Linked DNA regions of Homo sapiens: all the other regions are linked to region 3. Evidence: fine-mapped expression QTL. A gene starts in region 3. Each other region holds a variant in brackets. All regions are shown on one strand. Distances are between the middles of the regions. Region 1 has its middle 22 kb from the start of SRGAP3-AS4. Region 2 overlaps SRGAP3 (SLIT-ROBO Rho GTPase activating protein 3). Region 3 holds the start of SRGAP3 (SLIT-ROBO Rho GTPase activating protein 3). Region 4 overlaps SRGAP3 (SLIT-ROBO Rho GTPase activating protein 3). Region 5 overlaps SRGAP3 (SLIT-ROBO Rho GTPase activating protein 3). Region 6 overlaps SRGAP3 (SLIT-ROBO Rho GTPase activating protein 3).

The links. PIP is the estimated chance that this variant, and not a neighbour inherited with it, causes the effect.
Region 1: its variant is the best candidate, but not a certain one, in a credible set for the expression of SRGAP3 in naive CD8 T cells (Schmiedel 2018, PIP 0.56).
Region 2: its variant is the best candidate, but not a certain one, in a credible set for the expression of SRGAP3 in subcutaneous fat (GTEx, PIP 0.62).
Region 4: its variant is the best candidate, but not a certain one, in a credible set for the expression of SRGAP3 in monocytes after Pam3CSK4 (Quach 2016, PIP 0.89).
Region 5: its variant is the best candidate, but not a certain one, in a credible set for the expression of SRGAP3 in sun-exposed skin (GTEx, PIP 0.55).
Region 6: its variant is the best candidate, but not a certain one, in a credible set for the expression of SRGAP3 in macrophages (Alasoo 2018, PIP 0.67).

Annotation. Positions count from the first base shown.
Region 1 is chr3:9,268,726-9,273,969 of GRCh38, forward strand. It overlaps a transcript of SRGAP3 not described here. Among named protein-coding and RNA genes, the nearest start is that of SRGAP3-AS4, 22 kb to the left of the region's middle. The variant C/T (reference allele first, on the strand shown) is at 2,127.
Region 2 is chr3:9,107,319-9,112,562 of GRCh38, forward strand. The region is part of intron 2 of SRGAP3 (SLIT-ROBO Rho GTPase activating protein 3); the gene reads right to left. Among named protein-coding and RNA genes, the nearest start is that of SRGAP3-AS2, 83 kb to the right of the region's middle. The variant T/C (reference allele first, on the strand shown) is at 2,360.
Region 3 is chr3:9,247,405-9,252,648 of GRCh38, forward strand. It overlaps SRGAP3 (SLIT-ROBO Rho GTPase activating protein 3), which reads right to left and starts at 2,242. Exons shown (of 22, transcript NM_014850.4): 1 at 1,481-2,242. The coding sequence starts at 1,547. It overlaps SRGAP3-AS4 (SRGAP3 antisense RNA 4), which reads left to right and starts at 2,352. Exons shown (of 3, transcript NR_146969.1): 1 at 2,352-2,417. RefSeq lists an enhancer at 2,021-2,260.
Region 4 is chr3:9,077,471-9,082,714 of GRCh38, forward strand. SRGAP3 (SLIT-ROBO Rho GTPase activating protein 3) reads right to left here. Exons shown (of 22, transcript NM_014850.4): 4 at 2,555-2,617. Among named protein-coding and RNA genes, the nearest start is that of SRGAP3-AS2, 110 kb to the right of the region's middle. RefSeq lists an enhancer at 213-713. The variant G/A (reference allele first, on the strand shown) is at 2,917.
Region 5 is chr3:9,167,001-9,172,244 of GRCh38, forward strand. All of the region lies in intron 1 of SRGAP3 (SLIT-ROBO Rho GTPase activating protein 3), which reads right to left. Among named protein-coding and RNA genes, the nearest start is that of SRGAP3-AS2, 23 kb to the right of the region's middle. RefSeq lists an enhancer at 1,068-1,117. The variant T/C (reference allele first, on the strand shown) is at 2,275.
Region 6 is chr3:9,097,245-9,102,488 of GRCh38, forward strand. The region is part of intron 3 of SRGAP3 (SLIT-ROBO Rho GTPase activating protein 3); the gene reads right to left. Among named protein-coding and RNA genes, the nearest start is that of SRGAP3-AS2, 93 kb to the right of the region's middle. The variant T/C (reference allele first, on the strand shown) is at 2,987.

The DNA.
Region 1 (5,244 bases), 21 kb after region 3:
TTTGGTACACAGCAATCAATAACTGATACATCACACGACCCGTAAGAACCTCAGCTCTGATTGTAAATCAGGTCACACTGGCCCCAGAACCCACTCATTTTTGCACTACGTCACACTGCATTTCATGTTCTCTTCCTTCCTTTTCCCCAGAAGTTCTGATATAGGTGCCTCTTGCTCCCTGAGACATCCAACGCTGTCCCTTTTCCTACTGCCCTGTCCACTGTGAAGAAGAACAAAACCTTGCCTGCTCCAGGAGGCAGCACCACAGAGTGGAAAGACGGCAGAATTTGGAGTTAGGTGATTAGGATTGGAATCTCAGTGTTGGCCGGAACACGCCCACTGTGTGACCTTGGGCAAGTCACTTCCCCAATCTCTGGGTGCTCACAGGTCATATCTTGAAAGGTCATTTCTTGCAGGATGAATAGAAAGCCTTTGTGTGGAAGGCTATACTCTGGGGATGATTGTGGATAAAGTCCCTTCTCCTCTTTCAGCCTAACAAATGTCATCTGAAAACAAGAAGAGTCAATAGGCACTTCCCAAGGAGGACCAAAGTCAGGCCTGCCAGTCTGGAGTCCACTAGTGGACACAGTGCTCCCCGGCAGTGCTGTATTATGAGGCAAGAGAAGGGGTCCTTGTTCTACCACAACCAAGGACCCAGACAGTGTCTCCTGCAGAGCCACATAGTGATCTTTCCTTCAGGATGTCTCCCCTGAAACTGGCACATCCATGTCCACCCACCTAGACTCCTCAAGACCAATTCTTATTTGGGAACCACAAGTGCCAGCCTTCTGTGTTATTTGCCTGGACAAAGTTCTTATTCACCTGCTATAAATGAGACAAGGTTTATTTGTAAGTCTTCCCAGATACAATTGAACCTCTCCACCCAGAAACATTTCCAGCATCCTCATGCTGTGTGGGGATGAGAGGGAGTAAGGAGGCCTTTCACAAATGTGGTCAGGCTGGGAAACAGTTATCCCAAGAGAGGGCAAAAGGCCAATCAGGCCATATCTACCCTGATTTCTACACTTAAATACCACACCAGTTTTTCCTAGTCTGAATAAATTAACTCATTACCTGTCATGGCATAGTAATGTTTCTAATAAGGTGTCATATGAAAAAGTAGAATACAAAAATGTGGCAAGGAAGGAAGAAAGGGAGGGACAGAGGGAGGAAGGGAAAAGGAAGGAAGGAAGGAAGGAGGAAGGGAGGGAGGGAGGAAATCATAAGGAAACGGTTCTCAAATACTGATGTGTCAGGAACATCTGGAGGGCTTCTTAAACCACATGGCTAGTCTACACCCCCAGAGTTTCTGATTTAGTAGATCTGGGGTGGGGCTGAAAATTTTGCTTTCTGGGTTCTGCTGACATTGCTAGTCTGGAGACTAGACTTTGAGAACCACTGTAAGAAAATATACCAAAATTCAGTGGACACCTATAGGAAATGGGTCTGAGCACAGTTGTTTTGAAGGCTGCATAATATTAATCTGTATTGTGTAATATTGATAATAAAAGTATACATATTTTATAATTAGAAAAAACACATTAGTAGTATTATGGAAAGAAAAAAGTCAATCTTTACATATATGTGTATCAAAAGAGTCAATCCTCTCTGCTTCCTTTAATGTAAAATTCAAAAACAGACAACACTAATCCATGGCGATAGAAATCAGAACAATAGTGGCCTATGGGGGTGGAGATTGACCAGAAAGGGTCCCAAGGGAACCATCTGGAGTAATGGAAATGTTTACCTTGACTGGGGTGGTAGTTACCCAAGTGCATACGCTTATCAAAACTAATCGACTTGTGCATTTAATATCCCTGTTTCTCTCTATCAAATTTAACTCATTTAAAAAAACTCACTGTGATCAGCAAAAGAAGTATCACTTTTATATACATACACATAATACAAATATTATATACACACATATACACAATACCTATAATCATAAGTGTGTAAAATTGATGAGTACAGATGGATATTGACCAGACAATAACACAGCAAGTGAAAACAAGTAATTCAGAAGGGAGGTGGGAGTTTCATCCTTCTTTTTTCCATTTTTACTGTTATTATTTAAGCAAGAGATTTTTTTTTTTAAGTCAATTCCTGTTTATGCTTCTGGTACTGTT[C/T]TGTGCTGCCTTTCCCGGAAATGCCTTACCTCTGGTACCAATAACCGCTGAAGACAAAAGCAGAAGACTGGTACAGCATGTATGTGTATGCTGTGCTGCCCAGATCCCCCTGCAGAGGATTTTTGTTTTGTTTTTCTTTCATTGCCTGGGCTTTTGGACTAAGGCTCACACTCCCTCAAATGCCTAAAGTGTTGGCTATCAGCCGGGCCCAGTGGCTCGTGACTGTAATCCCAACACTTTGGGAGGCCAAGGCGGGCAGATCACTTGAGGCCAGGAGTTCAAGACAGCCTGGAAAACATGGCAAAACCCCGTTTCTACCTGAAAGTACAAAACTTAGCCAGGCCTGGTGGCATGCGCCTGTAATCCCAGCTACCTGGGAGGCTGAGGCACAAGAATCGCTTGAACCAGGGAGGCAGAGGTTGCAGTGAGCCAAGATCACACCACCGCACTCCAGCCTGGGCAATAGAGCGAGACCCTGTCTCAAAAAAATAAATAAATAAAGTGTTGGCTATTGAGGTCTCATGGCTAAAACACTCCTCAAGCACTGTCCTGAGCCAAGGAGCATTATCTCACCCCAGATCATTCTCCCTCCCCAGGACAGCCTATGTCCGAGACCATGGGGCAGAGGATCCCACCCCCTTACCTCCCTGTGGATAATTCAGAAGGACCCTCCCGGTTTCAGAACTTCCCATGGGATTGGCTGAGGCCTCTTCCAAGCCTGCCACCCTCACTCCCTCACAGTTGTTGTTGCTGAGAGGTGTCTCATAAACCTGTGCACAGATCTCCACTTTGGGGTCTGTTCTCCAGGGAACCCAACTTAGGAAAATTAGCTTCCCCATTGAACATAAAGTGCCCCATTAATAAGATGAAAAACCCTACAGCCAAAGCATGATGCACTAAGAAAAAAGCACAGCGTGGCAGAGGATGTAGCAAAGAAGCAGTAATTTACACCTCTGTCCTGTCTCAAGAATGAATGAACAAATAGGTACCCTGCACCTATCTCTATCTTTTATGGCATTTCTCACATTGTCATCACAACAGAAGATAATGTGCATGGAAGGTCTGAGACCTGCTCCATTCTGGAATTATAGTCGTTCTGGAATATGGCTATCTTAATAACAAAAGACCACAACGATCAAACTAAAGTCATATGACCTGCCAAAACAGATGAATGTCCAAAACCGGTTACAACTTCAGTTGCTACAAATCTGTTGCAATGTTTGGACATTGTCCACTACAACCTGCCTTTACTGGGCAGCTAGGACCTTACCCACAGGTCATTCACAGCCCCCTGGATTGCACCATCCCTTCGTAGTAGAAAATGTTGTCAGTCGTTACGGTGGTGTGATTTTTAAGTGAGTAATCACTTTTTAAAGTTTTTTAAATTTCTAAAACTTGTGGTAAAATACACACAAGATCTACCATCTCAATCATTTTTAAGTGTACAGGTCTTTGGCATTAAGCCATTCACATTGTTGTGCAGCCAGCACCACCATCCATCTCAGGAACTTTTTCATCATCCCAAACTGAAACTCTGGATCCCCTAAACTTCCCATCCTTCCTACCCCAGCTCCTGGTAGCCTCCATTCTACTTTCTGTTTCCATGAATTTGACTACTCTAGGTATTTCATACAAGTATGGAATCTTACAGTATTCGTCTTTTTGTGACTCGCTTATTTCACTCAGCACAATGTTCATAAGGTTCATCCATGTGGTAGCATGGGTCAGAGTTTCCTTCCTCTTTAAGGATGAATAATATTCTAATGTATATATGTATCAAGTTTTAAAACAAAATTTGATACATCAATGGACACTTGAGTTGCTTTTACCTTTTGGCTATTATGAGTAATACTGCTATGAATATTGGTATAACTATTTGTTGGAGTCTCTGCTTTTAATTATTTTTTGTATATACCTAGAAGTGAAATTACTGGATCATATAATAATTCTGTTTATTTTTTTTTTAGGAACTTAAGTACTTTTTTCCACAGTAGCTGCTCCATTTTATATTCACACTAACAATACACAAGAGTTTCAATTTCTCCACTTCCTCACTAACACTTATTATTTTGGGGGCAGGGGAGTGTCTATTTGTTTGTTTTGGATAGTACCCATCCTAATGGGTGTAAGGTTGTATCTTATTGCAGTGGTTCCCAACCTTTTTGGCACCAGGGACGGGTTTCACGGAAGACAACTTTTCCAAGGACGAGGTTGCAAGGAGATGGTTTTGGGATTAAACTGTTCCACCTCAGATCATCAGGTATTAGTTAGATTCTGATAAGGGGCACGCAACCTGGATCCCTCACATGTGCAGTTCACAATAGGGTTTGCGCTCCTATGAGAATCTGATGCCATGGCTGATCTGATAGGAGGTGGAGCTTGGGTGGTAATGCTCACTCACCAGCCAGTCACCTTCTGCTCTGCGGCCCAGTTCCTAACAGGGGTTAGAGAACCCTGTCTTATTGTGGTTTTAATTTTCATTTCCCTATTAATTTGTGATGTTGAGCATCTTTTCATGTGCTTATTGGACATTTATGTATCTTCTTTCAAAAAATGTCTATCCAAGTCCTTTGCCAAATTTTTGATCCAGTCGTTTGTTTTTGTCATTGCTGAGTTTTAGGAGTTCTTTATATAAGCCAGATATTAACCCCTCTCAGACATAAGATTTGCAAATATCTTCCCCACTCCATGATTGCCTTTTCACTCTGATTATGTCCTTTGATGCACAAAAGTTTTAAATTTTGATGTAGTCCGATTTATTTTTTCTTTTGCTGTCTGTGCTTTTGGTGTCATAGCCAAGAAATCACTGCAAAATCCAATGTCATGAAGGCTTCCCCTACTTTTCTCTAAGAGCTTTATCGTTTTAGGTCTTACATTGAAGTCTTTGAACTATTTGGAGTTAATTTTTGTATATAGTGTAAGGTAAGGGTTCAACTTCATTTTTTTTTTTTTTGCATGTGGATGTCCAGTTTTTCCAAAACCATTTGTTAAAAGATTATTCTGTCTCCACTGAATGTTCTTGGCACCCTTGTTAAAAATCATTAGACCATATACGTGTGTGCTTATTTCTGGGCTCTCAATTGTATTCCATTGGTCTATATGTCTGTCTTTATGCAAG
Region 2 (5,244 bases), 140 kb before region 3:
AATTAGAGAGGAAGGTGGTTCCAGTCTATAACAGAGACATACGCAGAGCATCAGTTCTGCTGGAGAAGCTGCAGAAGGCATCGTTCTCCTCCAGTGTGTTCTGGGTACCAGGCACGCGGCCTCTTCTATTCCCACTGGGGCCTGGACGCTTTTCCCTCTGCCTGGAATACCACAGTCCCTGCTCTTCTCATGAATGCCTGTTTCTATTACTGTAGGTTCAGCTTAGATGATACCTCCCTAGAGAACACCCCGTTGACCACACGCTAAGGCAGTGGTTCTCAGTGTGGCCCCTGAACCAGCAGCAGCAGCATCACTTAGGAACTTGAAAATACAAGTTCTCAGGGCAGCCCCAGACTACGTGTACTCAGAAGCCCTAGGGCTGGGCCCAGAATCTGTGTTTTAACAAACTCTCAAGGTGATTTGGATGCATACTCAAGTTACAGAACTTCTACCTTAAGGAGTTTCCATCCCTCCCCCTCACCCTACTGTGAGCTCTTTGAGAGCAGGGATCACTTCTATTGTGTCATCACGTCCAGCACCCAGCAATGTGCCTGCCATGTAGCAGATGCTATGGAAGAGAGACCCATGAAAAAAGACTGCATTTGTGCTGGGTCTTGAAGGATGGGTAGGAGTTTTCCAAATGGTCAGAAGTCAGAGAGAGGATGGAATTGTGGGTAGAAGGACCAGTGGGTACAAATATAGTGAAGTAGCTCAGAAGAGCTGGAATTCTGAGTGTGTTAGTGGAGGACTGTAGGACATGAGGCTGGGGATACAGATTAAAGGCCCAATGTTGGGGGAGACTGCCAGACTAAGGGGGTGGGACCCCTTATCTTCTAGACCACATAGTTCTCAACCTGTCCTGTACACTAGAATCAACTGGGGAGCTTTTAAAAAAACACCAAGACCCAGGACCCATCCAAGACAAAATCAGAATCTCTGGGGGTAGCGCGTGGTACTCATATTTTTATACTCTCTAGAAGATTCTAATGTGCAGCCAGGGTTAAGAATGCCTGCTTTAGGCCGGGTGCAGTGGCTCGTGCCTGAGTCCCAGGGCTTTGGGAGGCTGAGGTAGGAGGATCACTTGAGTCCAGGAGTTCAAGACCAGCCTGGGCAACATAGCAAGACTCCGTCTCTACAAAAAATTTAAAAATTAGCTGGGCATAGTGGCACACACCCGTAGTCCTAGTTACTTGGGAGACTGAGGTGGGAGGATCACTGGAGCCCGGGAGGTGGAAGCTGCAGTGAGCTATGATCATGCCACTGCACTCCAGCCTGAGTAATAGGCAAGACCCAGTTTCTAAAATAAATAAGAATGTCTGCTATGGGCAGTGGGGAGTCATGGAAGTTATTTCAGCAGAGGTAGGATATAACCAACATGTGTTTTGGCATGATCATGGAAGGCAGATTGGAGGATGAAGGGATGGATGGGTAGGTGGGTGGGTGGATGAGCAGGGATATGGGGCTTTTGGTAAGAGGACCAGGCAGGAGGTAATCTTAGTTCAAAAGAGAAATAGTGAGGCCTGGGTGTGGTCTTGTAGCCAGCGAAGGATGGACTTGAGAGATTTCTCAACAGGAGAGCAGATCCTCTTGGAAACTTCCTGGAAAACAGCAGAAAGAGGAGGAAGGAGCAGACAGTGATTCCGAGGCTCAGATCTTAGGCGACTGGGTAGATGCTGATGACATGAACTGAGATAAGAACTGCAAGGGGAGCAGTAGGTTTGGACAGAAAATGCATTGCTTATCTCATTTTCACTGCTTCCTAGGTGGTGATGGAAATGGAAAGATTAAAGGAGAGATGAGATAATTGAGCTGTTACCTAAATTACTTCAGGGGCTTAGCTGAACCTGGGAGGCAAGAAGTGAACAGCACCAGGGAATTAAATTGTGCAAAATTATGGAAGCCACAGCCAGAAGGTGAGTTTCAGAGGGAAGGAAAAAGACAACTGATCTGGAACTGATGGGGAATTGCTGGGACAGTTTGGGGACCATTAACTAGGTCATCTAGCCAGAGAGATGAGATGAGAGGAAGGGCAGAGAGCACAGCGCTGTCCTTATCAGAAGCTGCAAGCCAGGAGGCAGTGCGGTATAAGACAGAATTGCAGGAGGCAGAGCGAGCCAAGGCAAGGAGGAGGATGTTACCCGAAAGCAGCCAAAGACTCAAGTTGAAGTGAGCAGCTGCTGTGAAGATTCCTTCCAGCCCTCGTTCACTCCTTGCGTTTGTGTGTCTGTGCTGGGCAGGACTAGGTGCTGCGAGTGCAGGAGCAACCAAGGCTGCAAGACCCTGCCCTGCAAGTCTTCCACTTGAGTAAGGAGATTCACAAGGAACAGAAAGTGATGAGGCAGCCTCATCAGTGCAGTCA[T/C]GGGAAGGAGGCTATGGAGCAGAGAGGAGCCTCCTTCCCCAGATCTGGTGGTGAGGTTGGTCATGCATGGCTTCCTGGAGGAAACGCTTTCTAGACTGAGAACTAAAAGCCGGACTGGAGTTTCACAGGGAGGAGCCTTCAAAGGGGAGAAATGTGATGAGCAAAGGCCCAGGGAGGAGCAGGAGAGGGAGGAGCAGGTAGGGAGGGGGCCCAAGCATGGTGTTTTGGGGTAGGAGAGTGAGGACAGCAGGTGAACATGGAGACTGAGGCAGGGGCCACTTGGGAAAGGGCCTTTAACTCTCATTAGAGTTCAAGCTCCGTCCTGAGGTCAGCAGGCAGACCTTGAAGGGTTTACAGAAGGGGAGTGAAAGGGTAAAACTGCACTTTCAAACTCTCACTCTGGCTGCTGTACAGAGCCAGGGGCCGGGAGAGAAACTGAGGGATTCAAGAAAGGCTTAGGTAGGAAATTGACTGGACAGGGAGATTGACGGGATGGAGTTAGGGCTGGAAGTTGAGAGAGAGCAAAAGATGTCCAGGATGACTCTCCAGTTTTTGGTTTGGGCACCTGGGGGAGTAGAAGGAGCCTCTGTGGAGATGAAGAGGAGCAGGTCAAGGGTGGGGCGGGGAGGGAGGATGATGAGTTCGAGTCGAACACGACGAGTCTAAAAGGCTGTGGGGCATCCAGATGGAGCTATCTGGGCTGGAGAGACAAACATGGAAGCCAGCAGCAAGGAGTTGGATGCTATTTAAAACCACAGAACAACAAGGAAGGCTTTACAAATGCTGTGGCCACATGGCAGAAGAGGTCAATCCCCGGGAAGCATGGCAAGGCTGTGGCCGGAGGGCTGGGGCAGGGCCAAGCCGCGGTGGCGCCTCCCCTCCTGCTTCCCTAAAAGAGGGCAAGATGGGGCAATGTGCAGCCTGGCCTCCTCTGAGATGCTGTCCCAGGCCTGCCGTCCGATCAGCGGCCCATTCTCTAGGTCCATCCCAGCATGGGAAACTGCTGGGTCTGCACCCCCACCTTCTCCCAGCCCTGGCTCCCTCCTGTGGGGCAGGTCATTTGTAGTCTAAAAGGCTGGGGTGAACTGTCCACAGCCAGGGTCAAGAGCTGCTCTGTAGAAAGCTAGCATGTGTGGCCTTGGCCACAATGGTACCAGGCAGGCTCTACCACATCTGAAAGAAGAAGGCCCACAGGTGGGACTCAGCACAGCAGTAGAGAACAGAAAGCCACCTGGACGTGGGCATGGGTGTTCACCGGCGTCTGCCATGCTAGCTGTGGACTCCGGGCAGGCCACCTATTCCCTGTAGCCTGGCCACTCACACCATGGAGTCACTCTGGGCTTAAATGCCAGAAGAGAGCTCTGCAGTCATTCTTCAGCAGTTCATGCATTCCATACATTTTTGTTGAATATTTTGTATAGATCAGACCCCAGGGACACAACCTTGAGCCCAACAGACACAGTTCCTGCCTTCATGGAGCAGACAGTCTGGTGAAGAGACAGACACCTACCATGAGCCCACGAATGTGGGTAGAGTTAGAAGTGCAGAATGTGCTGGAACAGAGGGGAGCCTGTGCCATGAGTGCCTGTAATAAGGGGGCTGGCCTGATTTGTGGGTCACTAAAGTGTCCCCAAGGAAGAGGTCATTAAGCTGTGCTCCAAAGGAAGAGTTGGAGGGCGCTAGTGAAAGGGGCTGGGCAGGTGGGCTGGCGGGAGAAGGCTCTAGGCAGAGGGAACAGAATGGGCAAAGGCGCCTCAGGGCGGAGAGCCTGGTGCATTTAAGGAACTAAGTAAAGAACAGCCTGGCTGGAGTGGGAGGCAAGGCAGAGGAGGAAGAGGGTGAAGAGTGAGGCTGGAGGGGCCTGCAGGGTCTCACACACTCCATCCTGCCCCCATCTGGCTCACAATGGGACTGCAGGAGGGAGGAAGCACGAGGGCCGCAGACCGCAGAGCCAGACGCCAGGCTGCAGAAAACTTGAGCCTCTGCCTTCCCTGTTCCTGGGGTTGTTTGCCCCTTTGGAAAGTGGAACCCCTTTGACCTGAGATCCAGCTCTCTGTGCCAGCAGCCACTTTTGTCTTCTGCAGCCTCATTTTTGGAAGACATCAGAATGAATGAGGGCCAGTGCCCTCGGCCAAGGCACTCAGAGTGACCCTTCCGCTTCTCCAATCTTTCATGCAAGCGTCGACCCAGCAAGCAGAAGCTGCTGAACTAAGACATCACGTTAGAAATTTTGCATATGTATGTATCTATTTTCTTTTTTTATGGCCAGAAAATAGCAATGAACATTTCTGGTGAGTCACAGCTTTCTTTCTTTGGCTAGGGGATCTGGATATGAGGTTCCAGGAGACTGCAGCTAGGGGAGCCAGGCCTTGCCAAGCTAGTGAGTTGGGAAAATGAAATTAGCAGTGAGCCAGTTTCTCCAGCTTCTCGGCTGAGGGCCGGAAAATTCCGCTTAGCAAACAAAACCCATTTCCAAGCTTGCAGAGTCCCATGTTCCAGATGAATCCAAAGCCACTGCCCTGGGATCAGGGTCCCTCTGGGAGGAAGGCAAGCTCCTGCTTGGGCTTCCTGCCCCGTTCCAGGACCTTCTCAGGCCTCACACTGGGCTTGCGTCCGAGAAATGCTAACTCAATCAGTTCTGTGGCCAGAAAGGTGCATTTAACCTCCTGCTACCTAAGCTGCCCCAAGCAGGATTCAGCATTCATTGCACTTGCTTGTAGCATGAATCATTAATTCAGCCAATAGTAAGTGTGTGCCTGTTCTGTGCCAGGCAATGGTAAGCAAAATGAGCCACACTTCCCACTTCGTGGAGCTTACAGTCTAGTGGGGGTCTCAGATAACAATCAGATAATCACAAAAATCAATAGAAAATGGCAGCGGGAAGA
Region 3 (5,244 bases):
CCCAGAGGTGATGAGCACGCTGGGCTTTTGACCAGGACTAAAAGGCAAAAAGACTGTTGGTGAGACTGGAAAAAAAACAGATCCCTCCCCCCGTGGCTGCTCCACTCCCAAAGTTTCCCAAGCATCTGAAGCGTGTATGGCAGCTGCGGTGCCCAGCCTTCCCGCTGCTTTTAAGGAGGCCACCCAGCTCCCTGGGTCATTGGGTCTTCAGTTGCAGCAGCGCCCAGAAGCAGGTGTGGCAACCTCAGGTTGCTTGAGCCCCAAATACCCAACTTGCTCAACAGCCTGTGCATAACCTCAAAGATAGGCCTCAAGGTCCGCTGAAGATGCATTTTGTCTTTACTCTTTCTAGGAGAGGCCACAACACACCCTGTGTCGCAGCAAGGAGAACCATGACCAGAAAGAAAGCGGACGCCAAGAGGCACGAGCCCAGGCTTCCCACAGGGCACATCCTCAGAGAAAGGAGGAGCCTGCTGGATGGAGCTTTTAGATTTTCCTTGCCAAAGCTGAGCCTAGAACGTGTAGGGGTGGGAGAAGCCCCAGTCTGGCCTGAATGAGGATGCGGCAAGCCCGCATTTAGCCATGCAATTGTGTTCCCTTTCCTATTTCGCCTGGCTAGCGTGGATTTAGGGAGCGGCTTCTGAAAGAAGTATACACCCGGTGGCACAGAAGGTGCAACCAGCAGCCAGAGGTCATCTCGCCCTCCCGGCAGGCTTCTCCTGGAACCCCGGAAGCCAGGCAGCGCTGACCAGCCCAAACGGCATGCCGAGGTGTTGGCTTTGAATGAAAGCTGATGAACCTAAACGCCAGGGCACAGAGTGATTGGGCTGCACACTGCGAGATAATACATTTTCTGCACCAAGCTCCCTTTTTATGCCCAAATGCCTGCATTAGTCTGGATCAATATGCCCCATAACAGTTAATCCATGGCAACCCAGGCCAGCCCAGAGACACCGACAAAGAAGTGCCGCCCAGGGATGCTGCCTCGCTGTGCACATGCATGTGAATTCCGGCCCAGAGAAAGAGGCGGAGGCAAAACCACCACCACCAACAGAAACCAAAAAGGGGGAGGAAAAAAAGAGCAGATGGTAAAAAAATACCCCAATATTAAAGGGCTTTTACCATGGCAGGGAAGGGGTGGAGGTAGTGACTATCAAAATGGCCTTAGAGTGACATGTCACCGCCAAGATGATGGGGTATCAGCGACACTCCTAAAGTCAGGCATAGGATCCTCCTCACACACCTGCAATGCAGAGACTGCTGCCCATTCCATAATCCACACTCCCAGCCCCAGCGCTATCTGCAGTTGAAACCAGTCCGGACTTGTGCGGCTGCCACTGTTACTCCTCACAAAAAGATTATTGATGCATAACATTTCATAATGGCAGAGAGGAAAACGGGGGGCAGCGGGGGATGGGAACCAGAACAAGAGAAAAACGAAAGGGGAGGAGAAGGAAAACTCTCCCAGCCCGCATCTCACCTTTTATTTGGGCTTCATATTCAGCAATGATCTCTTTGTCTTTCTTGAACTTAGTTTGAGATGACATCTTCTGACGTGGCCAAAGGAACTGACAGGCTGTTTGATTTATTTCTCCTTTTCTTTTCGAGTCCTCTCTCAAGCCCTGGTAATCACACAGCTCTGGTCGATTTCACAGGTTTAGGGACTAATCTCTTTCACTTGGCTGCAGAGCAGGGAGAAAAATCCTTCTCCTTCTGGAAGGAAAAATCTCTTTACTTGCCGAGAAATGGCTCTAGTAGCTTGCCCTGGTCAGCTCCTCTTGCAAAAGAAGAATCACCCTAGGAGCACAGTAACCTGCCCCAGATTTTCAAAGATTTTTCTTCCAAAAATAATAATAATAGTAATAACCAAGCGCACTCACACACACATGCACACGTACACACACTCACGCATGCACAGGCACACTCACCGGGACACGCACACAGTTGTGCTGTGCACACAGGCATACACACACACACCCTCACACGCACACACACTCGCTGGATCACTCACACACACACATCCACGAGAGGCGCGGCGCCTCTTTGGTCGTGCAGCCAGCCCCTGGCTTGCTTTTGAAGGCTCTGCTAAGTCGATGGTCAGGTTGCCAAAGGGCCGGTCATCTCGCATCCTCCCTCCCTTCGGTGCCTCTGGTCTGATGTCCAGTGAGGATCAAAGCCAGGAGAGCGAGATGGAAGTTTTCCTGCTGCAACGCTTAAGCTCCGGTGAACACAAGGCTGGACTGCTCGCCCTGCAGGGCTGGCTGAGCTCTCCCCCACTGCTCACGTCACTAGACTCCGCCTCCCGGATTTTATAACAACTGACACATTGTAGCCTACAGGAGAGCAGAACTCACTGCAAGCAAAAAGGGGAAGAAACGCTCACAAAAGGGAAGGCAGCAGGAAAAGTAATCGGGTTGGTAAGTCTTGAGAGGCTTCTGCAAACTCCAAACATTAGCACTTGGGTTAGGGATTTTTCTTCCAAAAACTTAAGATCCTCCCTTTTTTTGCACTGTGCAATTTAATTCAGTTTCTGGAATCAACAGCTATATGATGGTTTGTCACTCTACTGGGATAGTCTAGCAGAGGGCCTGACCCATGTAGGGAAAAGCATCAATATTTGTTGAGCAGTTACTTGGTGGCAGAGACGATGCGAGGAGTTAAAGGCATGCAGCTTAGCAAAGCCACGCAGAGCAGGCACACTGGAGGCAGAACAGCTGGGTGGGTCATTGGCTTGTGGGGCTCTGGGCAAATTCATAAGTCAGACTGAGCCTCAGTTTCCTAGATAGTAAAATCAGCTCTCTTTGGAGGCTATGTTATTCATTCTTTCAACAGATATTTACTGAATGCTTACTATAGGTCTAGCACCGTTCTGGGTACAGGGATACAGCAATGATCAGAACTGGCACACACAAAAATCCCTGACCTTCTGAAGCTCCCGGGGCTCCACATCACACAACTCCAGCAGTTTCCACCATTCATGCTAATATTCTTAGTAAAAAGCACCCCTGGAGTAGAAAGCATTGTGAATGGTGCCCCCTGGAGTTGTACGAGGCAAGAGGCCCTGGGAGAGGAAGACCAAAAATAAGCACAGTAAGTATATTATATAATATCATACAAAATGTAAAGTGCTATGGGAAAAAATATTGCAGGGTAAGGAACATCGGGAATGAGAGGAGCTCTTGAAAAGATCAAAGAAAAATGCAAAGCTAAGCTTAGCACAGTCTCTGGTGCATAGCAAGCACTCAATAAACAGTAGCAACTGTTATTACCCTTTTATATCCCCCAACAACCTAACAACATAGGTATAAGCACCACTCTTTCACAGACAAAGGAGCAGAGGCTCAGATATGGGAAGTGACTTACCCAAGGTCACCAGCCTTCCAACCCAGGCTCAAAGTCTCCTGCATTCTACAAGGGAGACCAAACCCATTTCATGTGGAATTAAGGTAGAATAAGATTCATTCTGTAAAAACTGAGTCAAGCACTAAAGAGTCGCTGATCACTGGAATTTCATATGCTAAGATTGTCACTAATGTGTATTGGCCCCTGACTGTCCCCTGAGATAAATGTTCCCAAATTTCTCAAAATAGGTATAGTCTTCCATTTGCCTTTTTCTGAGTCTATAATAAATGATTCTGTTTGGACTCAGAAATGAATAGGTTATCCATGCTAGTCCATCAAGGCTTCCTAGAGGACATGGCAGCTGCAGTGGGCGTCCCCAGGCAAGTATGGCAAAGGGAGTGAGGCGGGGCAGGATGTTCTCCTGGAGCACACAGCATGAGCTGGGGCCCACAGGTGGCAAAGCACAAGACCTGCTTGGAGCAACGACAGGGAGAAGTCCAACTGGTGAATCATGGGGCTTATTATAGCCTTGTACCCGGAGGCAGGAGGTCACCAGTTCAGAAATAGATGCCACTGGCCCGCAGCCCTTGCCATCACCCCACTGCCTCACGCCTCCCCTGGACATGTTCAGGCCCTTTGCTGTCCTCTTCTAACTAGTTCAAACCCACAAAAGCCCCACGTTACCTGAGAAAGATGGGCACAGAGATTAACATCCCTGCTGCAAGTCTAGATTCTTCAAGAAAAATGAAAGTTAAAACCATACACCTTGGAGTACGACAGACTGGATCCTCTCCTGGCTCTGCCACGAGCCTTGAGCTCATGAGAACTTGAGCAAGTGGCTCAACCTGCTTGTGTGCCCACTGGTGGCAGGAACTCAGTAAATGTCAGCTATTTTCACCATTATTAAAATTTTAAATCCACAAATAGTTCTAGGAGACCTATGTGTAGGGTGCTGAGCCATGGAAATGTCACAAAAATGTCACAAAAAGCCATACAAAACCAAGGCCAAAGATGGTATAGCGCTCTGAGCTGACACCTGGCAGAGGCTGGGTTTTGGAGTAAGTCAGATGGTGGTTTACCTTCTGGCTCTGCTGTGCACCAGCTGTGTGTGGGGCTCATGGAGGAATACACCTTCTCTGAGTCTTGGTTTCCTCATCTGTCATAGGGTAGTGATCCACCCATGGCACAGGATCCAACACGATCATGGATTTAAAGTGCCTGGCATAGAGCAGAAGTCTCACAGACATAATTTCTTTTTTAGAGCTGTGGAAATGTGTTCTTCAACGTTGGAGGTGGGATCTGGTGGGCAGTGTTTGGATCATGGGGATGGATCCCTCAGGAATGGCTTGGTGTCCACCCCACGGTAATGGGTTCACAAGAGATCTGGTTGATGAAGAGTCTGGGACCTCGCTCCTCTTCCTTGCTTCCTCACTCACCATGTGATATGCCTGCACCTTCCACCATGATTGGAAGCTTCCTGAGGCCTCATCAGAAGCCAAGCAGATGCTGGTGTTATGCTGGTATAGCCTGCAGAACCATGAGCCAAATAAAACTTTTTTTTTTCTCAAGATGGGGGTCTCACCATGTTGGGCAGGCTGGTCTCAAGCAATTCTCCCACCTCAGCCTCCCGAAGTACTGGGATTGCAGAGTGAGCCACCACACCCAACCAAATAAAACTTTTTTCTTTAATTACCCAGCCCCAGGTATTCCTTTACAGCAATGCAAAATGGACTAATACAGGGCCCAGCCAAGCCAGACCTAGGACTAGAGCTTGGTCTCCACAGATACCCAGATTGGGAAAAGGAAGAGAGGAAAAAAAAGAGGAAAAGGTCTGTGTCCCCTGAAAAATCCATCACCACACACAATAAACCCACATCATCTGGAATCTTCTATCCCCAAGAA
Region 4 (5,244 bases), 170 kb before region 3:
GTGTGCAGTCAACAAATGATCTTCACAAGGGGTGTGCTGGCACCATGAGGATCCCACTCTTCCAAAGGAGAGAGCTAGGACCCTTCTTCCTCCACTAGCTTCTGGTGACCCTCACCAGGCTGCTGTGGAAATGGCAAGGCATGGCTTGTCCTGTTGGGGCCTCAGCCACCCTGCCTGGCCTGTGTCTCCAATACCAGCGGCATTTCTGTCCAGCCATCCTGCCCTGCAGCCAGCACAGGGAGGTGTGCATGGAGCACCTGCTGGATTCAGGCCACTGTGCTGGGCACTGGGACCTTGAAGGACACAGAGAGATGCCACTGTCCTCCTGATCTCTGACCATCACCTGGCCTTGTCCAGTCTACAAACCACAGAAAGGTGACCATCCCTGTTTGTCACAGGTGAAACTGACAAGTGAAGGGACTTGCCCAAGGCCACACAGCTGGGTTCAAATGGAGCCTTTGGGCCTTTCATGCAGTGTTTCTCAGCCAAGACCTGACTCCCAGGGAGTTTATACTCCAACATGTTGGGAGACGGGATATAGACAATAAAGATACAAGAGATTTTGGTACATCTGCCATAGGAACTTGAAGCCGAGAGGTAATAACATTCTGAAGGTGGCGAGGTTTGGTCTGAGTTTGAAAAATGAGCATGACACTAACAGGTAGGTATAGACAGCAGGGATTGCAGGGAAAAAGCAGCAGAGGGGGAAGGTATTTGGTGTAAATAGAGGGCACCAAGAAGAGGAGCCCCGCTGGAGGTCACAGCAAAAGTAAGAGACCTAGGTGGGAATGAATGGGGGGGTCCCAGGACATTGGGGCTAAGTTGTTTTGACACTGTGGAGGAAAGTGATCCATTCAAAGTGGAGCCTGAGGAACATAAAAAGGACCTAGACTGGGGAGCACCTGGTCTAGCCAAACTCGCTGCAGAATTCTGAGCACGACAATCCCATTCGGTTTACCAGGCTTGCATTATTTATCACCACCCTTCCCCCCACCGTGAGTATGTACAACAGCCTACCTCACACCCATCAAGGAGGAGCCAATGATAGTGATGATGATGATAGTGACACTCAGAACTTCTGGTACAGAATGCTCTTTTTTTCTCTATGTTCTAAGCATCCATTGCATACAGGATCTCCTCGAATTCTCACAGGGACGTGCACTAAGCAGGTACTAGTATTTCTACTTAACACCTGGATTTGAACCCAGATCTCTGGCTTCAAAATCTGTGCCTTAACCCAGCAGGCTGTTCTGCCCCCCAGTGACCAGCTGATGCAAAGCAATATGCATTCTCAAGCAGCAATTCTTCCTTTACCCTAAGAATGACTCAACTAAAAACTACCCACAACTCAAGTTTTGCTTCTTAATTTGGAATCACAGAATTAAAAGTTTCAACTTTTATCTAAGAACTCTCAGCCCCGTTTTACTGATTGGGAGACTGAGGCCCAGGAAAAAAAATGCCTTGCCTAGAGTTCCGTAGCTTGTTGGGATCTGAGGCAGGCTTTCTGACCTGAGGTCCAGGCCCTCCCGCAAAGGCTCTCAGTGCCTCTGAGGAATTTACCACCTGCTGGCCACACAGGATATAAACACAGAAAGATAATAAAACCAAACAGAAGGGGCTTCTCACAGACTGCTGTTCTTTCCCCTCATACCAGGGATTTTCAAATACAATTTTACCAGCAGATTCTCCCCAACACACAAACAAACACACTTTTCATGAAATGCTATATAGGGCACCTATCTATTTAAAACATAACCATTCTTCTCTGTTCTGATTGGGTAGGATTGAGGGGCCTGGAGCTCTACCTGCTGGGTCTACCCACCCCACTCCCCATATCTCTCCATGGGGTCCCCACATTCCTCTTGAGGAAGCCGTAGGCTCCTCAAAGCACAGTCTGAAAGTTCCTGCATCATCACCTCATGTGTTTGTGTCCCCATTTGCTCACCTTCTTGGATTCTAAAACTCATCTCAAGCACAGTTAGATGTTGACTCCAAGCAGGTAACAAAGTCAGCCGTGGACCACACTGTGATGTTATGAAACTATGCCTTGGAGATGGCAATGCAGGCTCACCCCATGACCTCCCGTGATCCTCGGAACCGTGCTCCATTTTGCAGATGCACAGACTGAGACCCAGACAAACTGCCCACCTGCCTATGGTCCTACAGTTGGTAAGGAGGGGCCTCTGCTGGAGCCTGTGCTGCCTCACTCCAAAACTCACATCCCTGCCTTCAGGAGCCTTCACACTCACACTCCCCCGGCCTTGACTTTGTGCCCTCTGTTCTTGCAGGTAACACGCCCCACAGCGGCAGGTCGTTTGAATCTCTCGTGAATTTTGACAAACTAGACAAGCCCAGGCCCTGCCCCAGATGTACAGAATCAGAAGCTGGGGCTGTGAGTCATTACATCCTGACACGATGACCCACTGTCACTCAGCATAAAACGCAGCAAAAAAGGCCTGGGGTCATTCCAGACCTCTGTTTTGCTTCCCTCCAGCTCTGGTGATGAAGACAGAGACCCAATCCCAAAACAGCAGTGAGCCTGGGCAGAACTTACTGTGTAGAGCTCATTGGTCACCTTCAGGAGCTCCTCGTGCATCTGCAGGCCAATCTCCTTGCTCTGGAATGTGGAAGAACAAATGTCAGCGGGGGAGAAGTTTGCTGGCTACATTTACCAATCTCTTTTCAAAAGCGAAAGGTCAGGAATGTTTCGGGTGGGGTCAGAAGGGGTACAGAAATCAGCATAAATTTCATTGATCTACAACAACATAAATTCCTCAACTATGTCCATGAAACAAACCCACAGAGAGAGGTTCCTTGCAGATGGGATTCCCTGATCATATGAGTTGGAGAACCCTACACATCATTTCCCTACCACAGTGACTCACAGTGACAGTAGCATATTAAAGATGTGGGGAA[G/A]CCCCACAGAATTTTTCTTTAATTCTACGTGTACTAAGCTGGTATGACCAGGGTCTGAGCTCCTTGCACAATCCTCATGAATGGCTACAGAGTGGGGTTCCATAGAACACACTTTGAGAAACAATGATTTGGCATCCCAATTCCTCTTGAGAGTAAATGATAATTCTCAAGTCCTCCAGGAAAAATCTCAGGTCCTCCAGAATATGAGTCCCCAGCCTCCAGGCCACAGATCAGTCCATGGCCCACTAAGAACCAGGCCACACAGCAGGAGGTGAGCGGTGGGTGAGCGGGCATTACCATCTGAGCTCCTGTCAGATCAGTGGTGGCATTAGATTCTCATACGTCCTCGAACCCTGGTGTGAACTGCGCATGTGGGGGATCTAGGTTGCACGCTCCTTATGAAAATCTAATGCAGGATGATCTGTCACTGTCTCCCATCACCCCCAGATGAAACCATGTAGTTGCAGGAAAACAAGCTCAGGGCTCAGGGCTCAAACTGATTCTACATTACAGTGAGTTGCATAATTATTTCATTATATATTACAATGCAATAATACAGAAATGAAATACACAATAAATATAATGTGCTTCAATCATCCCGAAACCATCGCCCCACCCTGGTCCATGGAAAAATTGTCTTCCACAAAACTGGTCCCTGGTGCAAAAAAGGTTGGGGACCACTGCTCCAGAAGATGTTTCCTGAAGGCTTGTCTTCCTTGACTGAGAATCAGCAGCTGGCACCCACTTGGACATCGCCTTCCTAGCTTTCAAGGACTGGTTACAACAGATGCCCTAACCTTAGTTTGACTCCAAATTTCAGCTCAGCCCTCCCCAGTGCTGGTCCCCTGGTCTGCCTAATCTCATCTTACCATTGCCTAGATCCTGACACAGTCGCAAGTCCACACTCTCAAGATGTCTCTTCCAATGAGGAACAGGAGAAGTACAGGTTGGCAGAAAGGCCTCTGGGGCACAAGGCAAAAGATCTAGCTTCTCATTTCCACTGTTGGCTGTGTGGCCTTGGAGAATCACTTCCCCCTTTGAGCCTCAGCTACCTCACCTATCAAATAAAAAGCTTAAACTAAAACAATACTTTCCAAAGCATGGTCTGAAGATCACTGCTAGATGCTATGCTAAAAAGGGGGAGCAGGGGCTTCTAAGACTACATGCATTTGAGAAAAAGCTAATTGAACAAAGGTAGACAAGTTTTCTTAATGCAGGACTTCTCAGTGCCTTTCATGTCCTTCCTTGCATGGAGACTTTCTAAGAAGGAGGTATAGTCTGTAGTTTCATTGACCACAGTCCTATTTCCATGAAGTGGCTTTCATGATATTTAAGGACACAATTCAGAAAACAATGAGAAAATTATCTCTAGGTTCCATGCAGCTTGAAGAGTCTAGAATTCTTTGTTATTTTATTTATGATTGTGATTATGATTTTGGTAAATATTCTCTGCTATAATCTGAATGTTTGTGTCTCCCTCAAAATTCCTATTTTGAAATCCTAACCCCCAATGTGATGGTATTAGGAGGTGACGTCTTTGGGAGGTGATTAGGTCATAAGGGTGGAGCCCTCAGGAATGGGATTAGTGCCTGATATGGTTTGAACCTCTGTTCCTGCCAAATCTCATGCTGAAATGTAATTCTCAGCATTGGAGGCAGAGCCTGGCAGGAGATGTTTGCATCATGGGGGTGAACGGCTCAGTGACATCCCCTTGGTGTATTCTGAAGTGTGTGGCACCTGCGCCTCTCACTCTCTCTCTGTTGCTCCCACTCCTGCCTTGTGAAATGCCTGCTCCACCCTCACCTTCTACCATGATTGGAAGCTTCCTGAGATCTCACCAGGAGCAGATGCCTGTGCTATGCTTCCTGTACAGCCTGCAGAACTGTGAGCCAATTAAACCTCTTTTCTTTACAAATTACCCGGCCTCAGGTATTCCTTTACAGCAATGTAAGAACAGACTAATACAATGCCCTTAAAGAGACCCAAGACAGCTACCTTGCCCCTTCCACCATGTGAAGACACAGCAAGAGATTGCCCTCTATGAACCAGGAAGCAAGCTCTCACCAGACATCAAATCTGTCAGTGTCTTGCTCTTAGACTTCCCAGCCTCTAGAACTGTGAGAAATACATTTCTGTTGTTTATAAGTCACCCAGTCTACGGTATTTTGTTATAGACACCTAAAAGGACCAAGACATTCTCCCTGTTTGCCAAGACCATCGTGTTGAGTTTCTGTATCGAAAATGGGAGCCGTGATCTTGGCTCCCTGAGCAGCTGCAGCCTCCTGCTCTTCCTCCCAGTTCCTTCAGCCTCATAGCTGGACCAGCTGC
Region 5 (5,244 bases), 80 kb before region 3:
TGTTTCTACCTGACTCAACTATCCCTGTTCTTCAGCCTCCTGGAGACCCCTAGTCCTCGGGCTCTTAATCCTTCTGCGAACCAGCAGCCTTGAGAGACATGATGCTCTCCCACCATCAGCAGAAGCTCACCTGTGACAGCAATTCTCCTGGGCAGGAGAAAGGGGGAGGATTGATCCTCCAGGGCTGAGGGTGGTCCTGCAGTGGCTTTTTCAGCCTCCATCCTACCTGCCCTCACTATAGCCTTGCCTTGACTGCTCACTCTCCCCACAATTCCAATTTGGATCAAGACACAGAGGCCCTGACTCATCCTGCTGGTTTCCCCTCACTGCCTCTTCACTCTCTCTCTCATTCTCCATTGCTAGTTCCCTTCTGTACTTACACATTTGACATTTGCTGCTTCCCAGGAGTCATTTATCTTCCTCTTCTCTACCTATGTTCCCCTGCAGCAACCCTCCCCAGGCCTATGCCTCACTTTGCACACATGCTGACATGCCCACATCCATGGCCCATCCACTGACCTTGCTCCTAAATTCTGGGAGCTGAATTCCCTGCTGTCAACGCCTAGGGGGGGAGCAGGAAGTTGGGACCGCATTCCTTTCCCAAGCCCCTAGCTTTTGGCCAGCTCTGTCCTTGGGATGTGCTGGTTTTAAGAAACATCCCCAGATGTCCAGGGTGCAACTTCAGGAAGGAGGAGAATCCAGCTCCTAAACTCTACTCTGCAGCATCTGCTGAAGGCCATCAACTCATCCCACTTCAGATTGAAAGCAAAAGCTATTTTCTCTACTTCTACACAAGAGCCCAGCCTAGATATCTTTCAGTCCTCAGCATGCCTCGCTGTTTTCTTCCCACCCTACTCCTCCCTCAAGACTGCCTCCAAGCGCACTCCATGGTGCATGCAGAAGCAGAAAATACCTCCAGGGAACTAAATCCACCTAATGACAAATAATGGTAGCTATAGCATTTGTACAGCCATTTCCAATTCACAAAGTGCTTTTTTCACAGACATTAGCTCCTTGATTCCCCACCACAAGTCTATGCGGTAGGTGACACTCTCCCCACTTCTGCAGGGCAGTAAAAGGAAACCCGGAGAGGTTAAGAGACACATCCAAGGGTATAACTAGCAAGTGGCAGCATGTCTTTGTCAACAGGAGTGCAACGAAGTCAGAAGTGAGGTCTAAAATGCAGTCTTGACTTAGCCCAATAGCCCATCAAAGACAGCCTGGCCCCAGGCCCTCTCCAGTCCTTTGCTTGGATCTGGACAAACTCAGACATTTCATCCTAAAGCCCCATTTTTGCCAGTGGCAGGAGCCCAACCATCGTCTCTGCTGTTAGCAACTGCTCCAAGTGTGCTCAGAAGTCACCTGATTGGTCAGAAGCAACCCCACCCCGCTCAGGACTGGAGCTGAGGCCCTGCAGGAGAATCTAGTGCACGTGTGCCCTCCCTCACTGAAACCAAGGCCCAGCACATCACGCATGAGCAGGATGTGCAGTTCCTGCAGCTGGTTTCAGAATGAATCCTTTGTTTCCATTCACCTGCGCTTTTTAACATCCGCTTAACAACTTTCAAAAGCCCAAAGGTGGCAGAATGAAATTACTTAGAATAAAAGACATTCCAAATGGAGACCTCTTTCTGGGTTTTCAGCCATCTTTTCGTACGTGCTTGGAGGCAAGCCAACTAAAAGATGTGTTTCTTAAACCAAGTAAGCTGTTAAGTAACAAACTGGTCCTGCAGATATGAGGAAAGAGAGAAGGGAGAAAAAGGAAAAACCTATTGATTCATAATCTCTCATTCATTCATTTTTTGGGCCCCTACTCAGCCAGACTGGCACAGAGTGGCAACATGAATATGCATATTTATATTCTGATATGTTACAGTGGTTAGGAGCATGAACCCTGGAGCCAGACCCTGTGGTGCCTCTCCAGGAGTTAGAGAAAGGTGTCCCTTCCTCCCAACAGTCACAGCTCTGCACCCAGGTGAGAGCAAGATTTCAGACTCAACTGATCCTTCCACCCTTGTGGACCCTTGTGCAGTGCATGGCCAGCACAACTGTACATGGTAGCACTGATTTCAATCCCGGCTCGTTCAGCTATTGTGTAACCCTGGGCAAGTTTCTGAGCCTCTCTGTGGATCTATCTGTTCATCTAGGAAATGAGGATAGTAATAGTATCTATCTTACAATATTGGGGAGCATGAAATAAAATAATGCACAGGAAGTGCTTAGCACAGAACCTGACTGCAAAGAAGCACTTTGTAAGTATGATTATAATCATTA[T/C]ATATGAGACATAGCCCCTGCCCTTGTGGAGTTGACAGTCTGGTGGGAGAGGCAGATTGTAAAAACATTATATCTGTTTATGTCCAGGGTTGGAGGTGGGGTAGCAGGACATGAGTGAGAAAACTGCTCTTGATGGGTGAGTAGGAATTCAAGCAGCAAAGAAAAGGTGGGCGTGGGAGGAAGACTATTCAAGGCTTTGAGAACAGTATGTACAAAGGTAGAGGAGTTACATGTCATTGCATGTTCCAGGAACAGTGAGAAGTTCCCACACTATTAACTACTAATTATGAATTTCTGCTAAGCTGAAATGCACAATAAGTGAGTAAATAATTCCCTCCAGTGCCAAACTTATGAGTCTCAACACTTGGGAAACTCAAAGTAGCCATACTTGGCATCAATTAGGCCAACACCTTGTGAAGTTGACAATGGCTTTGAATTAACCAATACCACATTTCTCAGGTTACTCCAGGACCTGGAATGTTATTGCTTGCTAGAGAATCACTAAATTGGAGTTCCCTCTGGTACAGAAGGAAGGGGATCAGTGCTTTCTGAAGGGGAGGATGGGTTAGGGGGGAAAAGCCTTGGAAGTCAGGGTTCCTGGGTTCCTGCCCCACTTTCTAGGCAAGTCATGGTCCCCTTTCCTGAGCCTCAGTTTCCTCTCCTGTAAAATGAAGGGGGCTGGGTTGGAGTTTCTTCCAACTGGGAGACAGTACACCTAACTGCTTACAGCCTGGACTTTAAAGTCAGACAAGCCTGTGTTGACATTTGTTAAGAGGACAAAATGAAGATTTAATCTATGTAAAGCACCTGACACCGCCCCACAGGAAGCACAGATGAAATGATAGAAGATTTGATCACTGCCGTTTAGACAGTGCTGGTGTGTGGGATGTGTGGGTGAATGTCCGTAGAAGAAACCGCCCCCAGTCTCACACCTCTCAAATCTACAAACCAAAACTCTTTGACACTTGGGAAGTTTTTGAGCCTGCCGAAGCCCTGCATCACGTCAGTGCAATGAACTCCATACACTTGAGACTTGGTAACATTGTCTTAGTATTTGGCTTGAATGAACTTTCTGTGTTTTTTTACGTGGAAAACACTCACATGACAGCCTCGGAGTAGTAGTGCGGGGAGCAGCGGGGTGGGGGCAAGAGGGTTCCAGGGGAAAGAAACTCTCCAGCAGCAAAAGAATGTGACTCACACTCTCACACAACAGAAGAGAGGCGACCTGAGCAGAGGTGGGCTGCTTTTTAGGAAGTCGCACTCAAATGGTCTTCATGGCTCCAAATGGGGAGAAGGTTTTAGCACACAGTCCCTGAAGACTCATGGACATTCCCGGTGGTTCTGATTGTGAATGATGCTGAAATCAACCATTGCAAAATACTCCCAGCATACCCTTTCCTCTGCACCTTCGCCCAGCGAGGCAGATGCTCTTATGGAGCTACTTCACAAGCGTGGGTCTGAGGCCCAAGGAGGTGAGGGCACATGCCCAGGTCACACACCACAGATACCTGCCCTCAGGCCTCGGACGCCACAGCTCAGCACTGCTCCTCTCCCCCAAGCCCTTCACTTGCTGGTGTGTAATGAGCACTGTCTCAGCGCTGGGGGAGCCATGAAGAGGCCTGGGTCACACAGTGTCCTCACGCTCCAGCCTGCTGGCAGAGCAAGGCCATGGGATTCAGGCCTGTTCTGTCCCTCAGCAGCAGGACAGCGCACGCATCTGAGGAGTGCTGATCCTGGCCTTGGGCAGTCAGCTTCCGCCAGCTGTGCCCTGCTATAGATGGCCTGACCCTTCAGGGCCTGGGCCCCACAACAGAATATTGTGGAAGAGAAACCCAAGAACCCCTGAGGCCCCAGCAGCCTCCACAGAGCCCCATGAGAACCTGAAAAAGTCCTGGAAACCTGAGGTCCCCTCTCCCTCACTACTGGAAAAGAATTAAGACAACGTGTTACTCCTTGGGCCCCAGGCAGAGGCCAAGCTGCCCTCGAAACATCCAATCTGCTCCAAGTTCAGAGGCAGCCTCCAGCGCATGGGAAGAGGGTGAGGCTGGGTCAGAGCCCTGCATTTAAATCCCCACTCTGCCACTTAAGACAATTCTGGAACATCTGTGCGCCTCAGTTCTCTCCTCTCCAAAATGGGAATGCCCACAGTGCTAACAGCACAGGATTGCCCTGAGGGTCAAGTGGGATAATAAATGAGAAGGACTTTTTTTGTGAACTGAAGCCCTATAAAAATAAGTGGGATTATGAGTCTTATTATCCCTCGCATGGTTCTACATGACTTGGAAGGACATCCAAGAGTTTCTCATCAGAACCTTATTAAAATTCTTATTAAAGTCTTATTAAAAGTTTTTTTATTATTATTAAAATCTTTGCCTGGATGCTTCAAAATAGCCCCTGTGTGCCCAAACTAAATATGATGTGAAGGAACCAGATAGCTAAAGTACACCAACCCATACTCAGAGGTGAGAGGCTCTGATGGGATCCAAATACTATATTCATTTCTGGGAGCTGGCCCAATAGCATCTCGGACTGAGTGACTTAAGCAGCCGAAATGTATTGCCTCGGTTCTGGGGGCCGGAAGAGGACACGGTGCTTGTCGGTGGGGTTGGTTCCTTCCAAGGCTGTGAGGGTGAATCTGTTCTATGCCTCTGTCCTGGCTTCTGGGGGCTGCCTGCAATGTGGCATTTCTCGTCTCCTGCCGTATCTCTGGATTCATGCTCCCATGGCCTTCTCCTTGTGTATGTCTGTCTCTATGTCCCAATTCTCCCTTTTTATTAGTTAGAATGGATTAGGGCCTTTCCAAATGACTTTTTCTTTTCTTTTTTTTTTTTTTTTTTGAGACAGGGTCTCGCTCTGTTGCCTAGGCTGGAATGCAGTGGTGCAGTCTCCACTCACTGCAACCTCCACCTCCTGGGCTCAAGCAGTCCTCCCACTTCGGCCTCCTGAGTAACTGGGACTACAGGCACATGC
Region 6 (5,244 bases), 150 kb before region 3:
CCTCCCAAAGCTCTGGGGTTACAGATGTGAGCCACCATGCCTGGCCTAATCGCTATAATATTATTTATAGATTGTTTATTGTGTACCAGGTAGACATTTCATATCATTTTTTAGTCCTTACAACAACCTTTTGATGGAGGCTATTATTAGCTCCACTTTGAAAATGACAAAACTGAGAGAGTTTAAGGGATTAGGTGGAGCTCACACAGCAGGAAAGTGGCAAAACAGAGATGAAATCAGAGTCCGGCCCCAGCCTTGGCCACTGCACTAGACTACCCACCTCTTCGTGATCCAGGACCCAGACTTTCCTCCCACTGGCCTCTGCTTTGGTGTGGATTCCGTCTCCCACCTTCCCCAAATCTCTGCACATCTGTTGTGGACGCTGTGACGCACCACTCAGATCCCCTTCGGGCCTGGGGAACGTATTCCCCCAGCTGCAGGAAAGTGCTGCCAATGGACTCCCTCAGATGTCAGCTGCTTTGGAACTGCCTTGGCTGCACAGGCATCATCTGCTCAAGCCCACAGCCTCTTTTAGAGGGAGCCCACATCCAATGACTACCCAACAGGAGGGTTTAAAGGCTCAGCCTCCTCGCTGTAGCTCAGGACAACTCTGAAGGGCCATCCCAGCTCCCCAGCATCCTTAAGACTGCACCACAGTCCGACTTCTCGGTTTGCTAACTCCTACTTTCCTCCCTTTTTTTCTGCAGGAGGGAATCCCAAGTATCCTCCCTGATACACCCCTGCACCGAAATACAGTCTCAGAGCTGGCTTCCCAGGGAACCCTGGTGATAGATCCTAATTATTTGAGGCTCGCTTCAAATGCTGCTTCCCCCACCTCTAACCTTACCCAAACCTCCCCCTCCCAGGTTAGAAGTTCTCCCTCTGAACAAACTTCTGTGGTGATAACCATCCCTCTCTGCTGTATCTGAATGAGTTACCGCTTCACACCTGTCTCTGCTTTCAGACTGCACTGGAAGCTCCTTGAGGGAGAGGAGGACATTGTGTCTGAGTCGTTTATCTAACTACTTCACTTTGTTTTAATTAATTTTTTTGAGACAAGGTCTCACTCTGTCACCCAGTGCAATGCAGTGATCACAGCTCACAGCAGCTTCAACTTCCTGGACTCAAATGATCCTCCTGCCTCAACCTCCCGAGTAGCTGGGACCACAGGCAAATGCCACCACGCCTGGATAATTTACCTTTTGTAGAGACAAGGTGTCCCTGTTTTCCAGGCTGGTCTCAAACATCTGAGCTCAAGCGATCCTCCCCCTCAACCTCCCAAAGTGCTGGGATCACAGGTGTGAGCCACTGCACCTGACTCTATCTTCTTTGGCACCTGCCTTTACCACTGAGTATGGGCTCTGGGATTGGACACATCTGGATTCAAACCCTAACCTCACCTTTCTTGGCATCAGTTTCCTCATCTGTAAAATGGGATAATGGCAGCATCTTCATCTTAGGTTTGAAGAGTTAAATGTGTATAGAATGCTTAGCCCAGAGCCTGGCACACTGCAGGCGTTTGCTCACTGTTTGTTATCTATAATTATTGTTTACCTACTGTCATGCTAGTGCTAATATATGTTTATTAAATGAGTTGGGAGTGCCTGATGATGACCGGCTTAGCAGGCTCTACTGGCAGAGTGACCGTTCGCGACTTCATCTCCCTGGGAGACGGTGGAGATTGGCTGAAGGCGCCTCATCCCTTGGCAGGGTGCCCACTCTGCTCTCTCCCTCCTCCTTCCCCATGCAGGCCTCATAGCTGGACCCTCCAGCATGCAAACACTCACTCCACTCTCTCATGCAACCAAAAAATAAAAAATAAACTTGGCTTTGAATCCAAGGCCAGTGGGTGCTTTTGATCTCGGTTACAAAGCAAGGCAATTATTGAACACAAAAAGCCCTGATTTATTTATAAAATGCGATGGACATCTTCGAGGCGGGAACGAGAAAACTCACTCAAGACCAAGTCCTTGTTGCCACACAGTGAATGGCTGCTTTCAAACACAAGCCCCCCACATGGCCTCGCTTCTCTGCAAAGAGTCTTTCCTCATTAGTGCTTCCTCCCAACACCACAGCTTCCAACCATCAAATTCACATCACGGCCGGGGCAAGTAATTAAATTCCACAGGCATCAGAGCATAGAATAATGGATGGCTATTGTTAAGGAAGCTGAAGAAAACAGAATGAGGCTGGAAATGGAATGGGCTTCAATACCCAGTTTCAGAAACGGTTAGCGGGGAGCAGGAGAGCAAGTGGGATGCAGACTGACCCTCCCACCTGGTGCAGCACATGGGATAGTGGCTTTAGTCCTGGAGCTGGAGGTGAAAACCTGAGTTTGGAGCCAGACTCTGCATTTGCCAAACATGAGCCTCAGTTTCCTCATCTGTGAAATGAGGAGGTTGGACTAGGAGTCATTCTCCATGTATGGTCCCCAGACCAGAAGCATGAGTATCACCTGGGAATATGCTAGAAATGCAGGTTCTCAGGCCCCACCTTAAACCTACTGAATCGGAAACTGTGGGGCTGGGGCCCAGCAGTCTGCATTTAATAAAGCCTCCAGGTGATCCTGATGCATGCTAGATTTTAAGAACCGCAGTGAGGTAATGTTTAAAGACAAGGCCAAATACTCAAATGCACAAAGGGCCAGAGAGGCAAAATCAAGGAGCCAAGTAAGGTAAAATACGCCAGCAGGGTCAGTGGAGTGGCAGAGACAGCGTGCCTAGGCTGACGGGGCTGGCAGCCACTCAGCTACCGCTAGCTGATGCCACGTGTGAGTCCATGTGGGGCTGGTATAGTCAAAGCTTCTGATTTTGCAAGAGAAACACAAAATCGTGATTTTGGGAGAAATCTTTAAATGTTTAAATGTCAACTTAATCTTTCTTAACATAGTAAGGGCCAAGAAGATTATACGTCAGAGCCAAACTCAGTTGTGCACTGCCATTTTTCAGCCTCTGTTCTGAGTTTTTTCCTTCGACCTCCATCACCA[T/C]AAACTCTACCCACTGGCTCTTACCTTTCTCCAGACCCTGAACTCCCAACCTCCTTTCCCCATTCAGCAGGCTCTTATTCATCCGTCAACACCCAACTCCAGGGGCACTTCCACTGTGAATTTATTCTCAACTCTTTGCCCCACTTTCCACCTCTCACTAAGAAGACAGAGAAGAAGCAAACAGGAGGCCAAAGAATTGACACACAGAAGGTGACACCGAGGAGGAAGACATGGAGAAGTTACAAAACAGCCTTTTCCCACAGAGGAGGAATTAGGACCTCTTGGCAGTTACCCTCCTGCTGCTTGAAAAATCACTCAAATAAGGACACCGATCCCATTTGACCAGAATCTAACAAAATGAAGTTTTAGAAGGGTAAATATGAAGAAACACAAAAGCAGAAGTCAAAGGCTGCATTAAAAAACAATTGGTACAAAAATACAAGGGACTTTTTGCTGACTGAGAGTTCACTGTGTCAATCATGTGGTAAAACAATCATCAAAGCGGCAAACACCATCACGGGTCTTATGAGAAATAAAGTGTCTGGACAGCCCTGCTCTGCCCTGAGCTGCTCAGACCTTCCTAGAGTATTCCGACTGGTTCTGAATAGTAACTTCTGTAGGTCAGAGAAGACCTGAAGCATGACCCAGGCAGGGCGACTGATATGGGGACAGAAACACAAAGCCAAATTCCAGGAGGACGATGGAAGGAACCTGGGACATCTGCCCATAGGCAGGAAGGACCAGTGGATGGTCACGATTTCTGCCTTCAAGCAACTGACAGGTTTCCATGTGACAGGTTTGATCTGTTTGGCCCTCTAGGGATGATCAGGACCTGTGAGTGAAAACACTACAAGATTCCATTTCGGCATTCGGGAGAATTTTCTATTGATCACGGATGTTCCCACATGGAATGAGCTATCCTGAGAGGTAAGGAGCGTTCTTTATTGAGGGACATCTAGCAGAGGCGTACAGCTGCTGTAGAGGATGATAAAAGGGCTGGAAAAGAGAGTCCAGTGGCCATCTCCTGTTTTATTTCTCCCTTCTTCTTGTAAAGGCACCCCTACTTTTCTTGGGGAACCACCCCTCACCCATTCTCAGTCCCATGGGTCAGGTGGAACTGAGTGTGCATCTGGCTTCAGGGATGGGTATGTGTCCCGGCCTGGCGAGGCAGAGCCCTGCAGCGCCCCAGCCACAGACGCAGCACCCGGTGTGCTCACGTGACCCGTGCTGGACCAATCACAGACCAAAATATCCCATTCTGGGAAAAGGGACTTGAAGCAGAGAGGATGTAGGTCTGGAGATGCCAGGGGCCCTCTGGTTATCACACGGCCAGCGGGTGGGGCTGACTGTAAAAGAGCCCCTCGCCTCCCCACAAAAAACGGGAAACAGAGAAAACTGGAGCAGAGTTGCCGAAAGAGTTGCAGAAAGACAGAGTTCTAGTAACATCCTTTGTTCCTCTGAAGCCCCGCATGCCCGAAGCCAGGCTTATAACTAGTAAGGTCCCTTTTTCTCTTAAAGAGGGGCAAGCTGCATTTCTGCTGTCTGCCACCATAAGAGTCCTGATCACTAACGATGGCCTCCTGGATCTCATTCAGTTTAATTTTGCTAGGGCTGATCCACATCTCACACTTAAAGCAAGGGCCACGTGCAGGGGCTTCTGGAATTTGAAGTGCTCCTCTAGTCATAAGAACAGACTCCACTGCAAAAGGGGAAATGGAGAATCATGAAAAGGTAAGTTATTAAGTCAAACCACCTCCCGCATCAGTGAGAAGCTGGCAGGCAGGGCAGCTGCCCAGGCCCAAGCCAGAAGATAGGCACAGGACAGACACCTGGCCTAGAAGCCGCTCCCATCTCCCGCAGCCTCACTGCCAGACTGTGGCTTGGTAGAGCCCTAGGACCCCAGCTCAGACATGGGGAGTGGTTTCTATTCTTAGGGATCACTGGCAAGCTACCATTTAATAAGCACCTACTGGATACCAGGCCTGGGCTGGACACTTGGCTCACCTCTGCATATTAAAGCGGCCCCCTGTGAAGTTGGCATTGTTACCAGCTCCATTTCCCAGATGACAAAACTGAGACTCAGAGAGACTTGCCCAGGGTGCAGTGATAGGCAGTTCTGAGACAAACTCCAAAAGCCCAGCCACTCCGCCTCCTGCTGGTAATGACAAGGGGCCCAAAGCAACCAAGTCTGGGTTCTCCTTGCAGCCTCCCAACGCTTTACTTCCTCACCTGTAAAATGAGGTGAGTGAGGATCCCCA